Homo sapiens: one gene and its partners. The protein of the gene in region 1 interacts with the protein of each later gene in a pairwise test. Each region holds a gene or a part of one and is shown in the gene's direction. Other genes may lie near its edges. The genes, in order: PRDX3, LRRK2, MAGEA11, TNFRSF1A, RPS6KC1 and MUC7.

The links.
Region 2: the proteins of PRDX3 (region 1) and LRRK2 interact in binary tests that used the Homo sapiens proteins (3 or more experiments, as listed by UniProt).
Region 3: the proteins of PRDX3 (region 1) and MAGEA11 interact in a two-hybrid assay, tested with the Homo sapiens proteins (one large-scale study listed by BioGRID and IntAct).
Region 4: the proteins of PRDX3 (region 1) and TNFRSF1A interact in a two-hybrid assay, tested with the Homo sapiens proteins (one large-scale study listed by BioGRID and IntAct).
Region 5: the proteins of PRDX3 (region 1) and RPS6KC1 interact in a two-hybrid assay, tested with the Homo sapiens proteins (one large-scale study listed by BioGRID and IntAct).
Region 6: the proteins of PRDX3 (region 1) and MUC7 interact in a two-hybrid assay, tested with the Homo sapiens proteins (one study listed by IntAct).

What each region holds. Positions count from the first base shown.
Region 1 is NC_000010.11:119,168,813-119,172,312, reverse strand, and holds part of PRDX3 (thioredoxin-dependent peroxide reductase, mitochondrial isoform a precursor), read left to right. Parts: intron 1-2,970; coding exon 2,971-3,136; intron 3,137-3,500. UniProt on the Homo sapiens protein: Thiol-specific peroxidase that catalyzes the reduction of hydrogen peroxide and organic hydroperoxides to water and alcohols, respectively. Plays a role in cell protection against oxidative stress by detoxifying peroxides.
Region 2 is NC_000012.12:40,227,997-40,231,496, forward strand, and holds part of LRRK2 (leucine-rich repeat serine/threonine-protein kinase 2), read left to right. Parts: intron 1-3,500. UniProt on the Homo sapiens protein: Serine/threonine-protein kinase which phosphorylates a broad range of proteins involved in multiple processes such as neuronal plasticity, innate immunity, autophagy, and vesicle trafficking.
Region 3 is NC_000023.11:149,715,060-149,717,768, forward strand, and holds the end of MAGEA11 (melanoma-associated antigen 11), read left to right. Parts: intron 1-544; coding exon 545-618; intron 619-693; coding exon 694-1,717; 3' UTR 1,718-2,209; downstream 2,210-2,709. UniProt on the Homo sapiens protein: Acts as androgen receptor coregulator that increases androgen receptor activity by modulating the receptors interdomain interaction. May play a role in embryonal development and tumor transformation or aspects of tumor progression.
Region 4 is NC_000012.12:6,339,277-6,343,394, reverse strand, and holds the start of TNFRSF1A (tumor necrosis factor receptor superfamily member 1A isoform 1 precursor), read left to right. Parts: upstream 1-1,318; 5' UTR 1,319-1,580; coding exon 1,581-1,619; intron 1,620-4,118.
Region 5 is NC_000001.11:213,271,241-213,275,274, forward strand, and holds the end of RPS6KC1 (ribosomal protein S6 kinase delta-1), read left to right. Parts: intron 1-1,283; coding exon 1,284-1,394; 3' UTR 1,395-3,534; downstream 3,535-4,034. UniProt on the Homo sapiens protein: May be involved in transmitting sphingosine-1 phosphate (SPP)-mediated signaling into the cell. Plays a role in the recruitment of PRDX3 to early endosomes.
Region 6 is NC_000004.12:70,470,724-70,474,996, forward strand, and holds the start of MUC7 (mucin-7 precursor), read left to right. Parts: upstream 1-1,473; 5' UTR 1,474-1,568; intron 1,569-3,283; 5' UTR 3,284-3,298; coding exon 3,299-3,352; intron 3,353-4,273. UniProt on the Homo sapiens protein: May function in a protective capacity by promoting the clearance of bacteria in the oral cavity and aiding in mastication, speech, and swallowing. Binds P.aeruginosa pili.

The sequences.
Region 1 (3,500 bases):
TTATGTAGACCTTGGTAAAGCATTTTTAAAACCAGAAGATCCTGGCTGGGCATGGTGGCTCATGCCTGTAATCGTAGCACTTTGGGAGGCCAAGGCGGGAAGATCACTTGAGTTCAGAAGTTCAAGACCAGCCTGGGCAACATAGTGAGACCTCATCCCTATTATATTAAAAAGAATTAAAATTTATAATAATCAATCCTTAATTTTAGTCTTTAATAAACACTGATGAAATGCCTCCTGCAAGGGTTGGCGGTCTCTCAGAAATGCTGAGACATGCATGTCCCCTCCACCACCTTGGGTCTCTTTCTGAAGAAGGCTGGCTGCGTCTTGAGGCCACACTGCTCCATACTCCCTAACTATGTGGGAGCCACTTCCATGGGGACACACACCTGACATTGAAGCCATCAGACTCTGCAGAAGGGGGGACTAGCAGGGTAAGAGGTAGTCTCTTGGAATGGTGACCATCTTCAGCCCTGGAACCAAACAATCCTTGGTTTGAGTTTTTCTTTTTTTTAACTCAGCTACTTAATAGCTGTGTGACTTTGGGCAACTGATTTGATTTAACCTTGTTGAGCCCCAGTTTTCCCATAACTAAAATGAGGTGGTACGTCACAGGTGGGTGTGAGGATTAAATAGTGACACAGCTAGAGTTTTTAGCATAGTTACTGGCAGCAGTTGTTAGGATTTCTGCCCCAGAACATCATTTCTATCTGTATTCAGTCCCTTATTAAACCTTTATTCCTTTGAGTGTGAAAAGCTTTCAGTCCTCAGCAGCCCCACATTCAAACATAACCTTCCTGGGAGGGATGAGAACTTGGGTCTTAGAATTGGCATCTTGAAGTCTGCTGAGAATAGGAGTGAAGGAGGGATAGGGCAGAACTTGACCTCCAGGAAGGAAGAGAGGGGATCCCCCTTTGATGTGCTGTGCCTCACAGTTTTGCTGGGGGCTGGTCAGCTTAAAGCCAGCTCACCTGGCCGGGCGCGGTGGCTCAGGCCTGTAATGCCAGCACTTTGGGAGGCCGAGGCAGGTGGATCACGAGGTCAAGAGATCGAGACCATCCTGGTCAACATGGTGAAACCCCGTCTCTACTAAAAATACAAAAAATTAGCTGGGCGTGGTGGTGGGCGCCTGTAGTCCCAGCTACTCGGGAGGCTGAGGCAGGAGAATGGCGTGAACCTGGGAGGTGGAGCTTGCAGTGAGCTGAGATCGCACCACTGCACTCCAGCCTGGGCGACAGAGCAAGACTCTGTCTCAAAAGCAAACAAACAAACAAACAAACAAAGCCAGCTCACCTGCCTGTCTTGTAGGTGACCTCTGGCCTGCTCTTTCTTGGGTTACACCTTGGGTTTTAGCGCTGAGTGGCATCTTAGAGTTTGGGCCTTTTTTTCCTCTCTTTTTTTTTTTTTCTTTTCTTTTCGAGACGGTGTCTTGCTTTATCGCCCAGGCTGGAGTGCAGTGGCGTGATCTCGGCTCACTGCAACCTCCACCTCCCGGGTTCAAGCAGTTCTCCTGCCTCAGCCTCCCGAGTAGCTGGGATTACAGGCACACGCCACCACGCCCGGCCAATTTTTGTATTCTTAGTAGAGATGGGGTTTCATCGTGTTGGCCAGGCTGGTCTCAAAACTCTTGACTTCGTGATCTGCCTGCCTCGGCCTCTCAAAAGTGCTGGGATTACAGGCATGAGCCACCGCACCTGGCAGACCATTTTTTTTTTTTTAAACTTTAAAGAGATTATCAAACGAATGCCTAGGTCTTTCAGAATTGTCAATGGCCAGAGAAAGGGTACTGGCTATTTTTCTCCTACGGTCCCTTTCCCTATGAGAACTCACTAATTTTGCAGTTACCTCTGTACCCGTTTTAATATTGAGATTAACAAGAGAGAGAAGCTGAGTCTGGCTTATAAGATAAAGACTTTTGGGAGTCTATGGGCCCTGCTCTGTCCCAGCTCTGCCTCACCTTCTATTGGTGGACTTCAGCTGGCTGCACCCTCTGGGAACAGTTTCACCTCAAACCCCAGGCTCCCAGTGCCTGACCCAGGGAGGGAGAAGCATCTTTTATCCTGAGTTTTCTCTAACCTGCCTTTTCCATGAGTGATTGATACCTGAAATTTCCACATCCTTTTAAGACAGACTGTTAAAACCTGTAGGTTAAATAACCGGACACAGTGACACACACCTATAGTCACGCTACTTGGGAGTCTGAGGTGGGAGGATCAGTTGAGCCAGAAGTTCGAGGCTGCAGCCTGCTGTGATCACACCTGAGAAGAGCACTGCACTCCAGCGTGGGCAATACAGTGAGACCCTATATTTAAACCAAACAACCAAAAAAACTTCTAGGCTAAACATATCTGCATCTGTCACAGTAACACCAACACAGAAGATAAACACAGACCACTGTGGTAGCGTGGTTCATCTCATTACATGCTGCTACATGATTAAAAGTGATGGGCATGGTTTTCTGTTTTGCATAGACTTAGAGCCTGTACATTCTTTCTATGAAGATTTTTCCCGTGGGATTTCCCCCCATTTACCCAATAATTCATTCATAATAAACAGTTGTTGAACCTAGATAAAATACACCTCTGTCTCTTCCCATTTGCCTATAAGTTTCTTGCCAAGATGTGATACAGCAGCTCAAAGAATGCTTGCCAAGTCACTAATAGTCTTTGCTCTCTCTAGTTCAGTGACTTTCCGATACTGTGTAACATTCAGGGCACTATGTGAACTTGTAAGTGTGACCATACTGCATGTTTTATGGTGACCTGGTCCAGTACTGCCTTTGTTAAAGCATCTGTCATCAGTAAGAGATGATAAGTTTTTTGCACAACAGTGAAAACCCCACCTTTAAGCATATGATTACGCTTAATAAATATTTTATTAAAAGGAGAATTAAAGACCTAAAAGGGAAGAAGTTAGACTGTTCTAGTTCTGGTACTGTTGAGGCACTGATGAGGATAAATGATCATGCAGAGGTCTCTTCATAATTGACCCCAATGGAGTCATCAAGCATTTGAGCGTCAACGATCTCCCAGTGGGCCGAAGCGTGGAAGAAACCCTCCGCTTGGTGAAGGCGTTCCAGTATGTAGAAACACATGGAGAAGTCTGCCCAGCGAACTGGACACCGGATTCTCCTACGGTAGGTTTTTTTCCCCAAAAGCAGTGAGGTCCATGTTCTCTCAGCCTCGAGAGCTATTGACCTGAAATATCCACAAAAGGGAGCCCACTCTTGAAGCAAGCGTGCAGATGATATGCAAATGGGTGAAGCTGCTGTGGGGTAGAGGGGGTGGGGTGGGGAGCCAGGAACCAATTATCAGAGACAGGCAGGCCTTTTTTTTTTTTTTTGAGACGGAGTCTTGCTCTCGCCCAGGCTGGAGTGCAGTGGCGCTCTCTCAGCTCACTGCAAGCTCCGCCTCCTGGGTTCACGCCATTGTCCTGCCTCAGCCTCCTGAGTAGCTGGGACTACAGGGCGCCCACCACCACGGCTAATTTTTTGAATTTTA
Region 2 (3,500 bases), on another chromosome or scaffold:
TAAGGTGATTCTGTATTTTAACTATTGTGAACAGGGCTGCAATAAACATGGGAGTTCAGATATATCTTTGATATACTGATGTTCTTTTTTTGGATATATACCCAGCGATGAGATTACTGGATCATATGAAAATTCTCTTTTTAGTTTTTTAAGATACCTCCATACTGTGTTTCATCATGGCTGTGCTACTTTATATTCCCATCAGCAGTGTACCACCATTCCCCTTTTTCTGCATCCTTACCAGCATTTGTTATTTTTTGTCTTTTTGATAATAGCCATTCTGCCTGTGGTGAGATAATATCTCATTATGGTTTTGATTTGCCTCTCCCTAATGATTAGTGAAGTTTAGGATTTTTTTTTCATGTACCTGTTAGCCATTTGTCTGTCTTCTTTTGAGAAATGTCTATTTGGATCTTTTGTCCATTTAAAAATAAGACTTTTTTTTTTTTTTTTTTTTTTGCTAATTGAGTTTTTTTAGTTCCTTATGTATTCTGGTTGTTAATCTTTTGTTGAATGGATATTTTGCAAATATTTTCTCCCTTTCTTTATGTTGTCTCTTCACTTTGTTAATTATTTTCTTTGTTGTGCAGAAGCTTTTTAGCTTGATATAATCCCATTTGCCTATTTTTGTTGTAATTGCCTGTGCTTTTGAGGTCCTACCCCAAAAATCATTGCACAGACCAATGTCCTGTAGCATTTCCCCAGTGTTTTCTTCTAGTAGTTGCATATTTTCAGGTCTGAGATGTAAGTCTTTAATCCATTTTGAAATGATTTGTGTATATGGTGAAAGCTGTGGATCTAGTTTCCTTCTTTTGCACAGCCAATATTTGATTCTCACTGAAATCTCACTGCCCTCCTGGAAATATTACCGGATGTTTTACTGTCATAGCGAAGTGAGAGTAAGCTGCTCACTGAGGATCAAAGAGCTTGTGACAGACCTAAGACTCAAGTCTTCTCACACCTTCAAAATCTCTTTCCATCATACAATCTACTAGCTGCTGAATTCGCAAGCTTTTTGTGCAAGCTAGTAAAAAGCAAAATGGTTTGATACAAATACTGTGGCCATGCTAGGTACAATGACATCAATTTAAATTATCATTGGTCTTAACAAGGGGATGTAGAAAGGGGTCTCCTACTGACATTTTAATACTCACTTAAAAGTAGTATTTTTCCTTCAGATTTCTTTATATTATTAGTATAATTACTGTAAGTATCCTTTACTGCTTTATATGTTGAATTAGCTGGAAGTGCCAAAAGAAAAACTCTTAATGATAAATTTAAGGTATTAAGGTAAATTTCTCCTTCATTTAATTTAATAGTAATTCTTAATTACTATTTAAAATAAAGATTAAGGTTTGTTTCTAGATGCCATTTAACATGATATTCCAGACTGCCAGTTTTATTTTCAAAGTTTGTTTCATATTTTATTAATGTTTCTTCATAAATGACAGTCTTTAGAAAATTGACGGTTAAGCTAGGTGCTTTATATTTTTCTTTTCCTGCCTATCTTTTCACTGTGCTCCTAAATTTTACATCTCTTTATTCTCAAGGGTTCAACCTTTGAAGAAGGGGAGCAAAATAAATGAAAGTGGCTAAAATTTTTTCTTTAACCCCTAGACTCTTTCCTGTTGTGCATTAATTACATGCTTGAGTTTTTAGAATAATTATAATAAAGTAAAACTACCAATTTAATTGTATTGTAACTGTGCAAGATGGGAACCTTCTCTCTTAGAGAGATAAGCTTTTAATTGAATAGATTAATGGATCAATTGTTACCTCTGCTTTGCTGCCAGAGATTCTATTTAATCACAGAAGTTCCATGTAGTGCTGGAGAGCTCAGTTGCCTGAATCTTTTTGCAAAGCGTTTACTGATACTGTTGCTTCACCAACCAAAACAAACAGGTTTTTTCCTTGAGTCAGCTTTGTAGGTACAGAGATGAGTTTGGCATCCTATGTGACTTTTTTTTTTTTTTTTTTTTTTTTTTTTACCACCAGAAGCTGTTCAGAATGTTATTTTCTTAAATAGTTCGGAAAAAAGTCTTGATGTATTCTATGAAAGCACAAAAATAGTCAGTTTCTATGACAGCTGGATTGTCAACGTCTGTTCAGCTTACGTGGAGGAGGATGTCCTACTTGAGTAGTATAGGTAGAAATAGCTATCAGAAATTGCCGCCTTTGAAAGCAATTTGAAATTATGTAAAAGGAAGTAATGACAAAATAAAGCAATTTATGTTTAATCTGGAAAAGATCCAAAAGTAATATTGTAAAGAGATCTTGAGTAATCATTTTTATCTTCCTAAAATAGCCGTTGTTTACTCCCGTAAGCGAGTAAGAAACTTGTGCCATTATTCCTTATTGGGTGCATATAGATTTCTCACCTTGTCATTCAACTCCTTGCAATATTCAACTTTACTTATGCATCCAGCCTTATCCCAAAATAGCCTCTTCCCTGTAGCAGCTTCCTTATCATGTAGCAGCCTACTCTCCTCACCGCTCATCCGTTCTTATACAATCTGGCTTAAGCTCTACCTCTTCATATTATATTCTTCTCTGAGTAATTTCAACTCACACTGAGTCTTACTTTCAGTATTTCTATTATATTGGTATTTATTACACATCACACTTAGATACTTTTCCATTAGTCTCTAGAGGGTACATATATGCACTTTCTCTTTTTTTTTTTTTTTTTGACCATGTCAAGTATAGTTCTATAGTATAATAGAATGAATTGGAGATCCTTTACATTTAGAGAGGGAGGAGTCTACAGTAGGAAGAATAGGTTAATTTTCATCTCCGGTTTGAAATCAGGACTTTCAATTTTTTTTTCAGAGGTAAAGAGCAACTTAGTCAAGTTGGCATCTTGTAAACAGACTGAGTGAAGATATACTTAAAATGCATCTATAATTTCATATTTTATTTCGAAATGTGAAAGAGCCTACTAGGGGTGTCTGTGATCTCTAGACCTTATCAATTCATTCTAGAGAAATCTGGAGGGAGCCATTGAGGAGTTCTACCTCCTGTCTATTTTATAGAGCTCTTTCTCTTTTTCTCCTATCAGATGTAGATTCAATTGCTAAAAATGCCACGTTTCTTGCCTCTATTATTCTAGCTTCATTACTTGGGGAGCAGCCATTCTGATAACTTACATTTTGCTACTAAAATCTCCAACTTCACCTAATCCTTCATTATAAGCCACTTCATTTTTTCCTATAATTAAAATTTTAAATATGTGGAGGAAATTCTGTCAGGTAGATATGACTTAAAACCTACTAAGGGCCAGGTGCAGAGGCTCACGCCTGTAATCCCAGCACTTTGAGAGGCCAAGTCAGGAGGATTGCTTGAGCCCAGGAGCTTGAGACCAGCCTGGGCAACAGAGCGAGACCCCTGTCTTCACAAAAAAAAAAAAAAAAAAATTAGCTGGGTGTGGTGGCACATACCTGTAGTCCCAGCTACTTGGGAGGCTGAAGTGGGTGGATCACCTAAGGACAGGAGTTCTAGGC
Region 3 (2,709 bases), on another chromosome or scaffold:
GTCACCATCTCTTGCTGTCCTTCCTGGGTAGCCCTGTGTACATGTGGCCAGATGTGTATCCCCACATGTCCTCTTTCATATCAGGAAAGAGCTATTGATCTGAGAGTTTCTCAGGTCAGGAGAGCTGTGTCTTCCAGGCCCTGGCAGGAGAAAGGTGAGGGCCCTGAGCACAGAGGGGACCATCCACTCCAAAAAAGTGAGAAACTCACAGAGTTTGGCCCACCTTTCTGACAGTGCTGGGGTGCCAGGATGGGTGCTTGCAGTCTGCAGCCTGATGGCCCCATGATTCCTCTTCTAGAAGCTCCAAAAACTGAGCAGTGAGGCCTTGGTCTCAAGCAATGTCTTCAGATCTCAGAACACAGGAAGCCTAGGCAGTGCCAGTAGTCAAGATGAGATGTTCACCCTTAATCTACAAATGGCCCCACCTGCCCCAGTACAGAAAGGGACCCCCAGCTTGCAACCTCACCTGCCCTACCTCAGTCCTGGAGCCTCCTGCTCTGATGTCCAGCTGCATCTTGAGCAGCCTTCTCACTTCCTTTTTCAGGTTTTTAGAGAACAGGCCAACCTGGAGGACAGGAGTCCCAGGAGAACCCAGAGGATCACTGGAGGAGAACAAGTGTAAGTAGGCCTTTGTTAGATTCTCCATGGTTCATATCTCATCTGAGTCTGTTCTCACGCTCCCTCTCTCCCCAGGCTGTGGGGCCCCATCACCCAGATATTTCCCACAGTTCGGCCTGCTGACCTAACCAGAGTCATCATGCCTCTTGAGCAAAGAAGTCAGCACTGCAAGCCTGAGGAAGGCCTTCAGGCCCAAGAAGAAGACCTGGGCCTGGTGGGTGCACAGGCTCTCCAAGCTGAGGAGCAGGAGGCTGCCTTCTTCTCCTCTACTCTGAATGTGGGCACTCTAGAGGAGTTGCCTGCTGCTGAGTCACCAAGTCCTCCCCAGAGTCCTCAGGAAGAGTCCTTCTCTCCCACTGCCATGGATGCCATCTTTGGGAGCCTATCTGATGAGGGCTCTGGCAGCCAAGAAAAGGAGGGGCCAAGTACCTCGCCTGACCTGATAGACCCTGAGTCCTTTTCCCAAGATATACTACATGACAAGATAATTGATTTGGTTCATTTATTGCTCCGCAAGTATCGAGTCAAGGGGCTGATCACAAAGGCAGAAATGCTGGGGAGTGTCATCAAAAATTATGAGGACTACTTTCCTGAGATATTTAGGGAAGCCTCTGTATGCATGCAACTGCTCTTTGGCATTGATGTGAAGGAAGTGGACCCCACTAGCCACTCCTATGTCCTTGTCACCTCCCTCAACCTCTCTTATGATGGCATACAGTGTAATGAGCAGAGCATGCCCAAGTCTGGCCTCCTGATAATAGTCCTGGGTGTAATCTTCATGGAGGGGAACTGCATCCCTGAAGAGGTTATGTGGGAAGTCCTGAGCATTATGGGGGTGTATGCTGGAAGGGAGCACTTCCTCTTTGGGGAGCCCAAGAGGCTCCTTACCCAAAATTGGGTGCAGGAAAAGTACCTGGTGTACCGGCAGGTGCCCGGCACTGATCCTGCATGCTATGAGTTCCTGTGGGGTCCAAGGGCCCACGCTGAGACCAGCAAGATGAAAGTTCTTGAGTACATAGCCAATGCCAATGGGAGGGATCCCACTTCTTACCCATCCCTGTATGAAGATGCTTTGAGAGAGGAGGGAGAGGGAGTCTGAGCATGAGATGCAACCAGGGCCAGCGGGCAGGGAAATGGGCCAATGCATGCTTCAGGGCCACACCCAGCAGTTTCCCTGTCCTGTGTGAAATCAGGCCCATTCTTCCCTCTGTGTTTGATGAGAGAAGTCAGTGTTCTCAGTAGTAGAAGGCACAGTGAATGGAAGGGAACACATTGTATACTGCCTTTAGGTTTCTCTTCCATCGGGTGACTTGGAGATTTCTTTTTGTTTCCCTTTGGTAATTTTCAAATATTGTTCCTGTAATAAAAGTTTTAGTTAGCTTCAACATCTAAGTGTATGGATGATACTGACCACACATGTTGTTTTGCTTATCCATTTCAAGTGCAAGTGTTTGCCATTTTGTAAAACATTTTGGGAAATCTTCCATCTTGCTGTGATTTGCAATAGGTATTTTCTTGGAGAATGTAAGAACTTAACAATAAAGCTGAACTGGTGTTGTGAAACAGAGAAATAAAAGGAGAAGGTCATTAATTCTTGTCTTCTTATCCATATTAATCTGTTGTTCTATGAAAGTACACACCCATACACACATGTACACCCCCCTCCCCCCACATACATATTCACCAAGGAAATGCAGTTTCCTACTGAGTTGCAGATTCTCTGAGATGTCCTGGACAATAAAAAATATTCCAAAGTAGAGAGTGGTAGCACCTGGGGTCACAGTAATACTAGAAATAGCTGTCAATCATTAAATATCCAGTACATGCCAGGCATCATCCCAGGTGTTTTAATACATTTTATACATTACAACAGTCCTAAAAAAATGGTCTATCAAACCCATTTTCTGGATGAACCTGAGTCTCATGGTGCTTGGTAACTTTCCCAAGATCATATCACTGGTAAACCACAAGGTTGGCCTGAATTCATCTAGAGCCCATTCTATTCTCACTCTTTGCAGCCTGAAGTACACCTCTGTCCCTTAATTCATTTGTTTTCTCAGTACTGCATAATGTCTCTCAAGTGGCCAAAAG
Region 4 (4,118 bases), on another chromosome or scaffold:
CACATTGGGTTTCTGGACCTCAGTTTTCTCCTCTATAAAACCGGGCAGTTGGGTGGGCACGGTGGCTCACACCTGTAATCCTAGCACTTTAGGAGGCTGAGGTGGGCAGATCATTTGGGCCCAGGAGTTCAAGACCTGCCTGTGTAACATGGTGAGACCCTGTCTCTACAAAAAATACAAAAATTACCCAGGCGTGGTGGTATGCACCTATAGTCCCAGCTGCTTGGGAGGCTGAGGTGGGAGGATTACTTGAACCTGGGAGGTCGAGGCTGCAGTGAGCTGCGATGGTACCACTGCACTCCAGCCTGGGAAACGGAGCGGACCCTCAAAACAAAAACAAAAATGAAAAACAAGCAAACGAAGAAATAAAAAAACCTAGGGGGTTGTAGTCGATGATCTGTAAGGTGAGTTATAATTGATGTATTGGAATATTTAGGAAAAGGGCACTGGGAATATGCTAGGAACACCTGATGGAGGTATCTTTATTTCCACGGCAGCTTCGTGGATACGTCTCATTGATTCTCATGGCATCACTTTCCCCATGTAGGTGGGCAGACATTGTTACCCCTGTTTAATAAACAAGGAACCAACAGAGGCTTAGGAGAGGAGTTGCCTGATGTCGCATGATTGGTGGCAGAGCCAGGATCAACAGTGGGGCAGGGTGGGGGGACCTGGCCAGGCAGAGACTGGATGAGACCTGGGGTGAGGAATGGCAGGCACCCAGTCAGGGCAGAAAACGAGGGTTGGGACTTACTTTGAGTTTTGGATTGGATCAGTAAATTCCCAAGAAAGAGGGAGACTAGGAGGCTAGTGAAGAACTCTGGAGTAAAGGGGAGGATTACTAAGGGACATGGAGTACCTATCATGTGTCGGACGCTTATCTATATCTCTCCCATCTGAACAAATCCTTACAGGAACCCCAGGAGACAGGTTATCTCCACTCTGCAAATTGGAAAACAGATCCAGACAGTTTCAGTTATGTGTCTGAGAAGTTCATTTATGTGTCCAAGACACATTCTTAGCTAAAAAGCTAAGCATTCTGAATTGGAACCCAGAGAATTTGACTCCCAGACTCTGGATCTTTTCACTGCTGTGATCCATCTGGGAAAGGCTAGTGATGTGGGCAAGGGGCTTATTGCCCCTTGGTGTTTGGTTGGGAGTGGTCGGATTGGTGGGTTGGGGGCACAAGGCAGCCAGATCTGGGACTCCTGTGCTTGTGACTGGACTACAAAGAGTTAAAGAACGTTGGGCCTCCTCCTCCCGCCTCCTGTGGCCTCCTCCTCCAGCTCTTCCTGTCCCGCTGTTGCAACACTGCCTCACTCTTCCCCTCCCACCTTCTCTCCCCTCCTCTCTGCTTTAATTTTCTCAGAATTCTCTGGACTGAGGCTCCAGTTCTGGCCTTTGGGGTTCAAGATCACTGGGACCAGGCCGTGATCTCTATGCCCGAGTCTCAACCCTCAACTGTCACCCCAAGGCACTTGGGACGTCCTGGACAGACCGAGTCCCGGGAAGCCCCAGCACTGCCGCTGCCACACTGCCCTGAGCCCAAATGGGGGAGTGAGAGGCCATAGCTGTCTGGCATGGGCCTCTCCACCGTGCCTGACCTGCTGCTGCCACTGGTGAGACCAGGGACAAAGGGAAGAGTGGGCTGGTGGGCGAGGCACCTTCCGGCTGGCGTGGGCCCTCTCCGGGAGGGGGCCGAGCCTCTCCTGCCCGGGCCTGGTCCTGGCGCCAGCCTCAGGCCTGCAGGTCCTAACCTCAGCCACTGCCAGTGTGGGGTTCCCCATTCATCCGCCTTTTGGAGTAGGGGCTGCGCTGAGGCAGGGGAATGGGAGAAGTTTGAAAGGGAGAGAGTAAAAGGAAGCCCTGGCCCCTGACAGCGGTGGAAGTTTGTGGGCGGCCAAGGGAATGTGGGCAGGAGATAGGCCCAGGGTGGGGCAGATTTGGCGGGGAAAAGAAGGGAGTGGGAGTAGGAAGATTAGTGCTCGGGGAGTCCAGACGGTTCTGAATTCTGTCCCTCCGGTCAGCTGGCTGGCCTGGAGGGTGTTGGGCCGTGGGGAGGCGAGGCTGCCTGTGGAACTTGGTGGAGCACACCCTGTAGGGCAGGATTTTGGCGGCTGGTGAAGTGGGGGAGTGAGTTGAGGAGTGGGGATGGGCTGGTGTGGTGGGTTTGGGATGCTCATGGTGGGAGGTATTTGAGAATGGGCTGGGACACTGGATGGGGCAGGGCAACCCAGTGGACAGTGTCCCCAGTGCCCTGGCCAAGCCCCGGCCTCTCACCTGGGGACATTCTTTACCCTTTTGCCTGCTGCTAGGCAGGTAGCCGCTGTGGGACTGAGCCTTCCCAGGGAGCTAGTCCTACCCCCACCTGGTCAGTGTCCCTGGGCCTGTCCTCCAGCTTCCCCTCCCCGCTGCTTCTCACAGACCTAAACAACAATCCCTTGGTTTCTTATTCTACAGTTCAGTTTGGGGAAGTTGGTAGAAAGTTGTTTTCGTCACTGGAAAATGTCCCTTTCTCTGGCCTCAGCCTTGTTTCAATGTATCCTTGATCGTCCTCCACGTCTTGGTCCGGGAATCATCCTGTTCAGATGTCCTGGGCCCATCTAGTCAGGCAGATTTTCCCTGCCCTGCCCGGCCTCTGAAGGCTGCGCCTACCTCCCCTCTCTTTAGTGCCTTATACTCTTCCTCTCCTACCATTCCTTTCTTCCAGCAATCTCCCCAGACTCTCCTCAGACTTCTCAGAGCCTCTTTTTTTGAAATCTTTTCTCGCTAATCCTCCTTCCCCTCCTCTCTGCTCCGCTCTGGTCCCGGCCCCAGGTCCCCAGGCAGCACGTCTCTGGTCAGGGTCTCACTCTTCTTCTTCTGCCTCCTCCTGCCTCCTTAGTCCCACCCGCTCTTCCCTTCTTCCCACTGTCCTTCCCCCACGGTCTCCCCACCAGCCAGCTGCCCTGACATCCTGCTTCTGTTTTCTGTTTGGGGGCGGCCCCTGGCTCCCTCACATACCTCCTGCATGAACAAGAGCAGCTTATATAACCTAACCTTCCATGCCTTCGTTTCTTTATCTCCAAAATGGGTGTCACAGTCTTGACCTCATACTGTTGTTTTGAAGATTGAATAGACTGATACATGTTAAGTGTTCATTTGATTTATTAAGTGTGCGCTCTGGGCTAGACACTGTGATAGGTGCTGGGATTACAGCAGAGAACAAAATCCCTGCCCACAGCTTTGACAGTCCATCAGGGGAATAGGTTGTAGCAAATAGAAAGCACTCAATAAAGTTTTTATATTGCTGTGACTAGTAGTAATTACTGGGTGGCTACCTGTGTTGGGAAAACAGAGGGTAAAGGTAGCCTGAACAGGTAAAGGGAAGTGCCTGCGTCCTGGGGTGCTTCAGCCCAGGTGGGATTATGTCTCCTAAGGGACAGAAGCCTGGCCTGGAGCTGGAGGAAAGGGAAAACAAAGGGAATGCAACATCCTTCTGAATTTCTCACCATTCAGTGGGCAATGCAGAGCTCACAGTGTGTGTGTGTGTGTGTGTGTGTGTGTGTGTGTGAGAGAGAGAGAGAGAGAGAGAGAGAAGTGGGGTAGGGGAGTAGGGAAGAATGATACAGGAGAGACTGTGGCAAAGCAAACAGGATTTTGCTGCTCTCAAAGAGCTTACAGCCTAGTAACCAAGATGGCTTACAGTGAAAAATGATTTCAGAGCAATCCCGAGGAAAATATCCACAAATGCATTGTGATGTGGTGTCCTGGAGCACCAGTTGGGAGGAGGAGGAACTGGGGAAGGAGGTGAGCCTTAGTCCACTGCCTTTCCTTGCTTAGCAGGTCTCAGCTCCTGCGCTCAGCTCCAGAAAATTCAGGAGCTTCCCCACGCTGCTTCAGTGTCCTTCACTGTGCAACTGCAGCACTCCCTGTATAGATCTCAGTGCCTACAACTGACTGTCTTTGACTCAAGTGAGAGCTCTTGAGAGCACGAGCTGTGTATTATCCACCTCAGCATCCCTAGCACCCATACGGGACCTGTCACATTAACTGTGCCCCTTAACTATTTGCTGAAGGAATTAAGGAACAAGAGATGTGTCAGATGGGATGGCGGAGGGAAAGCCTCATAGAAAAGT
Region 5 (4,034 bases), on another chromosome or scaffold:
AAAAGGAATGGCCTGTTGATACCTGCTACAGTGTGGATGAATCTCAGAAACATAATGATAAGTGAAAGAAGGCAGCGTCAAAAGACTACATATTTTATTATTTTACTTATATGAAATGTTCAGAAAGGGCAACTTTATAGAGACAAAAGGCAGGTCAGTGGTTGCCGAGGGCTGGGGATGGGGGTGGGGATTAACTGTAGATGGCATGAGGAAACTTTTTAGGGTAATCAAAATGTTCTAAAAGGCCGGGTGCGGTGGCTCACGCCTGTAATCCCAGCACTTTGGGAGGCCGAGACGGGCGGATCACGAGGTCAGGAGATCGAGACCATCCTGGCTAACACGGTGAAACCCTGTCTCTACTAAAAATACAAAAATTAGCCGGGCATGGTGGCGCGCGCCTGTAGTCCCAGCTACACGGGAGGCTGAGGCAGGAGAATGACGTGAACCCGGGAGGCGGAGCTTGCAGTGAGTCGAGATCGCGCCACTGCACTCCAGCCTGGGCGACAGAGCGAAACTCCGTCTCAAAAAAAAAAAAAAAAAAAATGTTCTAAAACTGGATTGTGATGCTAGTTGCACAACTCTTTAAATTTACTAAAAGTCATCAAATTGTACACTTATAAGGGATGAATTTATATAAATTATCCTTCAGTAAAGTTGTTAACACAAAAATTTGACATTATTAAACCACAAAATTTTTTTTTACTTATTTTACACATGATTCCTATTTCTGAAGAAACCAAAACTTGTTTCATTCATTATATTAAATTATTTCATTTGTGTCAACTATGCCAAAGACTAGTGATTTTGGAATACTAATCAGCTTATTCACACTTTAGGTAAAGTTTAGTCTCAATACATACATAGTTGATTAGGGGTCGAAAGATTTACTGTGCTTCCCAAATTTTCTAATCATGAAGGAAGTAACTGGCTATCTCAGAATCTAGTGCAATATCTAATTAATGTCATGGTGTACTTTTGGGGTAGGAAATTGATAGGTATAACTATCCTATTATATTACATGAGGATGAGGGAAACAAAGTAAGTTACTCAAGGCCATGTTTCCCATCAGTTGAAAAGCCATAAACTCAGTTCAGGTGTCTCTCACACCCCACAGCTAGAATGGTATTAGACATAGCTCCCTTTCAAGAAAAATGGTCACTTGGCTATTAATCAAGACTGCTTGTTACCAGGGTTGAATTTAGAAGTTGTTTCTTTTCAAATATTGGTTTTCCTTTGATTTGCCAGTTGGATTCCTGTTACTCACTAAGTCCGTCTTTTTTTAGCTCTTGCAGTTCAATCCTCTGGAACGACTTGGTGCTGGAGTTGCTGGTGTTGAAGATATCAAATCTCATCCATTTTTTACCCCTGTGGATTGGGCAGAACTGATGAGATGAACGTAATGCAGGGTTATCTTCACACATTCTGATCTTCTCTGTGACAGGCATCTCCAGCACTGAGGCACCTCTGACTCACAGTTACTTATGGAGCACCAAAGCATTTGGATAAAGACCGTTATAGGAAATGGGGGGGAAATGGCTAAAAGAGAACAATTCGTTTACAATTACAAGATATTAGCTAATTGTGCCAGGGGCTGTTATATACATATATACACAACCAAGGTGTGATCTGAATTTAATCCACATTTGGTGTTGCAGATGAGTTGTAAAGCCAACTGAAAGAGTTCCTTCAAGAAGTTCCTCTGATAGGAAGCTAGAAGTGTAGAATGAAGTTTTACTTGACAGAAGGACCTTTACATGGCAGCTAACAGTGCTTTTTGCTGACCAGGATTGGTTTATATGATTAAATTAATATTTGCTTAATAATACACTAAAAGTATATGAACAATGTCATCAATGAAACTTAAAAGCGAGAAAAAAGAATATACACATAATTTCTGACGGAAAACCTGTACCCTGATGCTGTATAATGTATGTTGAATGTGGTCCCAGATTATTTCTGTAAGAAGACACTCCATGTTGTCAGCTTTGTACTCTTTGTTGATACTGCTTATTTAGAGAAGGGTTCATATAAACACTCACTCTGTGTCTTCAACAGCATCTTTCTTTCCCCATCTTTCTATTTTCTGCACCCTCTGCTTGTTCCCTCATATTCTGTTCTTCCGACTCCTGCTAACACACATGCAACAAAAAAGGGAAGGGAGTGCTTATTTCCCTTTGTGTAAGGACTAAGAAATCATGATATCAAATAAACATGGTGAAACATTAGATCTCTTCTTCATTTAATAACCCTCCCCCCTTTTTTTCCTTGAAGAAATGCGTCTGTTCCTTTCCTTGTGAAATATTATCAGTTTCTACCATTGCTTCTCATGCTTGACTTTGTTTTACTTTTTGGCTTGGTATACTAAGAAGCAAAGGATCTCATCTAAATGGAATTGAATGGCAGTCCTAGTTTGTTACTTATGGTGATGAGATTTTCAGATTTGAACTAATCTATTTGACGTGATTTAGAAAGAATGTAAGTATTCACACATCTCCAAACATTTGTATTTGTTACTTCTTTTTGTTGCTAAGGTAGCTCCTGTAGTTATGCATTGTTGCAAAAATTTACAAATGTTTTAAAAGTGTTAACATCTGTTTTTTTTTAAACGTTAGCCAAAGAAGAAGTCACTATTTCCAAGTTAGAAACCACCAGAAATAATTGAAATTTTTGATATGTTCTAATCTTCTTTGCATTTTTGAGATCTGTGTGAGAGCCCAACCCCACTCCAGGAGCATCTGTACAGCTTCCATCTGCCATCGACCAGGTCCTCTCATCAAATTAAATGGAACAGAAAATGCTCTAGTGAAACAAAGGAAATGTGCAAGCATTTTTCCTTTTTCTATTATTCTATTTCCCTTTTTCCTTTTTGGCCCCCTTATAATCCAAACCCCAGCTGAAAGGCTGCAACAACACCAGGTTGGGGAGCAGGTCACCAGGATCATAGTTCAGTCAAAATGACATCACTCCCTGGAACTAGATTTCAACTCACTAGTCCCCTGGCCTCATAACAGGAACTTATGCAGGTGAGACACAAGAATGACTTCCTGTGTAGGACTAGTAGGAAATCTGCAAGTACTTAGAGCTGGCCATTACAGAACTTCCTTCCAGAAGTGCCCTGTGACATGAAAGTAGGACTTCACAACTAAGGTGAAGATCCCTGCCCTACCACATGATTTGAGTCTCTTGGATTCAAAGGACATTAATGTCAACAGATGGTTGCCATGTCAGTCTGTTGACACAATTCCATTGCTTCAGTTTCTCCCCTTTTCTCTCTATATGTTTGGTTGGAGCTTGTGCCTAATGTAAATACATCATTCATAATTAGAATGGACATTAATTATTTTAGTAATAAACACAGGATAAATAGCTTTGGGGTGATGAACCAGAGTCTGTTTTTATTTTATGGTGTGTACATATTTTAAGCTGTACTTCTGTGAATGGTACTGATTTTTGTGGTTGTTTTTTTTTTATATTTTGTTTGTTTAAGCAGAAGAGTGGAATATGGGGTCAAAATCATAAAAGAAGTTGCCATGAGTGTTTCTCATTTGATTTTTTTATCGTAAAATATACATAACATAAAATTCACCATTTTATCCGTTTTAAAATATACACTTCAGTAGTGGCATTAAGTACATTTTTGTGCGACATCACCACTATCCATCTCCAGGACTTTTTCGGCACCTCAAATGGAAACTCTGTACCCACTAAACAATAACTCCTCCCCATTCCACACTCCAGCTCCTAGCAACCACTATTCCACTTTCTGTCTCTATGAATTTGACTGTGACTGTTCTAAGTACTTCATATAAGCAGAATCATACAATATTTGTTTTTTGTCCTTATTTCACTTAGCAAAAAGTTTTCAAGGTTCGTCCATGCTGTAGCATTTATCAGAATTTCCTCCCTTTTAAGGCTGAATAATATTCCATCATATGTATTACCACATTTTGTTTAGCCATTCATCTGTCAGTAGACATTTGGATTGTTTCTACATTTTGGCTGTTGTGAATAATGCCATTATGAATATTGATGTA
Region 6 (4,273 bases), on another chromosome or scaffold:
TAACTATAACAAGTATATTGTAAATGCATATCACTAGTTGCTAGCAAAAAAAGATGAAAAGAAATTAATATTATAGCCCATATTTACTAACTCATTGCTATCTCAAAAACTGTCCCTAACTTTCCACTAATGGCAGCATAATAGCTGAGGGTGTTCCATTCAAAAGAACCATGTCAGAACTTTTAACTTATCTACTTTCAGTCTGACAACTTTGTAAAGTAGATGTCACACCTAATTAGCAGATAGAAAAACTGAGGCTCAAAGAAGTTAGCTAACCTGTCAAAAATTACATGGCTACTAAGTGGAGAAGCAAGGAATCAAACCCAAAGAATGTAAGCCCTCAGAGACTGTATGTGCAAAAGAACAAACTGACTAGCTAGAAGTGGAATCACACCTTCAAAACTGTATTCCAGATTAACGATTTTACATAGTAGAAATATCTAATTTTGAAGATCTCTATTAAAATGATTCTTAAGTTCTTTTTTAAGTTATTAAGTTTCTTTTTAAAAATAAATATTTATAAAATGACTAGTCTAGCTATCAAAATATCACTACCATGGGGGAAATGGGAGAAAATTTTCTGGGATAAAAGAAACTAGAGACATAACAAGTCACTGCAACACACGGCCCTTAGTTGAGTCCTGGTAGGAACAAAATGACTAAAAATATTTTTGCCAAAATTTGAGTATAAACTCAATTTTAGATTATATGTTTGAATTATTAATATTGTTATAGGTTGATGGTGTTGTGTTATAAAAGAAAGGCTTTTTAGAGAGAAATGCTGAAATAGAGAGTAGCTGTTACAATTTCTGTAGTTTACCTTAAGATACTTCAGCAAAACAACTAAGATATATAGCAAAATGTTAAGAATTATGAAAACCAGGGAATGAGTATATAGTTCTACTACCCTCCTCACTTTTCTATATGTTTGAATATTTTTCAAGACAAAAAGTCAAAAATTGTTTTTAATTACTTGTATTTAAAAATTCAGTGTTGATTTTTTGGCTTTAAATACTGCCCTGCACCAGTACTTGGCACCACAGTATTTTTTTTAAATCCTCTGTCCTTTATTAACTTGTCTTATTGACAAGGAAATATGGTGTTCCATCACATTAACTGTCAGAAGGCAATCACTCTGCTTACTTTGAGAGCCCAACAGGAAAGAGTGGATGATCTGTTCCTGTTGGGAGGACCTGGGCCATGGTTGTTTGTTTCTCCGTAAGCGCCTTCAATTACTGTTCCACTACTCATCAAGCACATAAGTTACTCATTGAGAACCTCTGATCGTCACTGTGCTCATCAGGAAGAAATTGATGCACAAAGAACTACTGTCAATCTCAGCAAACCACAACTATTCTTTTCTTTAAAAGTAAATTCCTTGACACAAATGACCTTATCTTAAATCTAATAGATTTCCTATTTCCAAAAAGCTCGACTGGAGTGTTATAAAACCTGAAAATTCTCTTGTGCTTTCTCTTCTTTTGCTTCTAGTTACCATCCTCAAAGGATTGGCTAAAAGCAAGCAACTGGATTGAACACCCTAAGAAGAAAGATTCACACTGCACCAGGTATGTGGATACTTTAGATAGGTTCTAATATAAACTAAACAGCTTTCAAGTAATATACATATATTAAGTAATAGCAATAGTTGTTCTAATACAGTTATTCTCCTCTCTTCTTATGAACTGCCAAACAGTGTGGTAACACTCAATTCATATGTTATTAGAACACAATATGATTGGTAGGAATGTTTTTTGGTCTTGAAATTTAAAAACAAATCTGACAATATATTAGGAACCTGAAGAATAATAAGTAACCATTTCGTTTTTCAATTGGGTCAGATTGTTTTCTTCTTAGTGTGCTAGTACTATAATAATACCACTGAGACTTTATTATGGATAAGACATTATTCTCAGTACGATTTGTAATATATATATTATTCCAGTCAATCCTCAGGACATTCTTATGATGTAAGATTGCAACTCACTCAAAGTCATGCAGTGAGTGGCAGAGTCACACAGTAAGTGGGCAGAGCTTAAATCAAGTCTCTGACTGACTCTAACACCCATTTTATAAACCATGGGATTGTATTGTAAAGTGTGTCTAATCTCACAGCCCACCACATTGACATGCACACTAATTACCTGCCCTAATATGTAATCTGTCTATATGATTTAACCTTTATTTTGTTTTCTAAAGCTGATAAGCTGACATGTACACATTACATATATAACCAAAATGAGAAAAACAAAAGACCACATTCTTCTCTCACTCTTCCCTTCTACAACCTATAGCCAAAATACAATTCTCTTTTGCAAGTAGTTATTCAAAAAAAATATGTATTAAGTCTGCACTATGTACTAGGCATGATGACATAACAATGAATAAAGAATAATTCCTGTCATTTTGGGACTTAGAAAAAGGGTATCGGCCAGACACGGTGGCTCACACCCGTAATCCCAGAATTTTGGGAGGCCGATGAGGGTGGATTGCTTGAGCCCAGGAGTTCAGGACCAGCCTGGGCAACACAGTGAAACCGTGTCTCTACAAAAAATAAAAATAATAATAGCAATAGCCAGGAGCGGTGGTGCATGACTGTAGTCCAAGCTACTAGGGTGGCCAAAGTGAGAGGATCGCTTGAGTCTGGGGGGTGCAGGCTGCAGTGAGCCATGCGTGTGCCACTTCACTCCAGCCTGGACAACAGAGCGAGACTCTGTCTCAAAAAAAAAAAAAAGGTACAAGAAAAAGGATTATCAAATGGCAAAATCTTCAGTAGAATGAAATTGGAGGAAGAGTCCATTTGACCTGGTTCTTTGTTCCAAGTGACAGCCTTATAGCACAGCGACAAAGAGCATTTTCCTCTAACATCAGGAGTCTTTGCAAAACTGTGTAGTATCAGGTCATTTATATGATGGTTCCCCACAGAGGGGAGCTTCCTGAATTAGAAAAGAAATAAGAAGAAAATTATTTCCTTTTCTTATTGCTAAACTTCCTAAGATCCTGCCTTTCCTAGCCAATCTTTAATATCAATAGAAAATGCTCATTTTGCAAACTAGTTAGAATAATTCTTGAGCCTCCTCCATTGCTTCCTCTCTAAAAGAATGCATTTTAGGCCTGAAGCAATTTTGCATCACCCCTATGGAATGAAAATGTATACATAATTTTCAGAAACCATTGGTCTCTTTTTGCCTGTACTTTCTAATAAAAATAAGTTATTTACCAAAACGCATTCCTCTCCCATAATATCATAACTAATAGTACGCCACATTTCTGCTTTTCCCAGGAGACATCAGAAAGAATGAAAACTCTGCCGCTGTTTGTGTGCATCTGTGCACTGAGTGCTTGCTTCTCGGTAAGTATTCACCCAAATAAGTTTTTTCCTTAACTATCAATAACAAACATTTAGTGTACCTACCTGAGACTTTTAAAGCATAATAGGCAACCCCTATTTCCAAGAAGCTTGACATCTTTTATTTCCAGGAAACCTATAAATATGGACAATTGGCCGGTGCACTGGCTCACACCTCTAATCCCAGCACTATGGGAAGCCTAGGAGGGAGGATCACTTGAGCTCAGAGAAGTTCAAGACTAGCCTGAGTAACATAATGAGACAGTATCTCCACAACAACAACAACAACAAAATTTAATTAGCCAGGTGTGGTGGTGCGTGCCTGTAATCCCAACTACTCGGAGGCTGAGGTTGGGATCTTAAGCCTGGGAGGTCAAGGCTGCAGCAAGCCGTAATCATACCACTATGCCACAGCCTGGGTGACAAAATGAGACCCTGTCTTAAAAATATATACAGATAGGTAGATAGACTAGATAGATAGGTAGATAGACTAGGTAGGTAGGTAGGTAGGTAGGTAGATAGAGCATAAGGAAATAATTTGTTTCATTTATCCAATATCTATAGAGCACAAACTTTATAGTGAGTGTGATGAGAACTGACACAGATGAAAACCCAGGTTTGTAAGGCCTTTAGGTCTTGGTGTGGAATATGGTTTCAAATCTGTCAGGAAGTCTCAGCATGATCAAAGCACTCCCAGGGGATTTACATGACAGGATTCTCAGGAGAAGATAGGTAGCAGGTAACAAAAGCTGAGATAAGGAGACTAGTCAGGAAGCTATGGCAGTGGTCCAGATAAAAGATGATGGTGACTTGCACTAAATTTCAGCAATTAAAAGATAAGAGTGGGTTTAGGATATATTTTAGTGATTGAGTCTACTATATCTTCTGCTGGATTGTATATGTGGTAAAAGAAAGAAATGAACA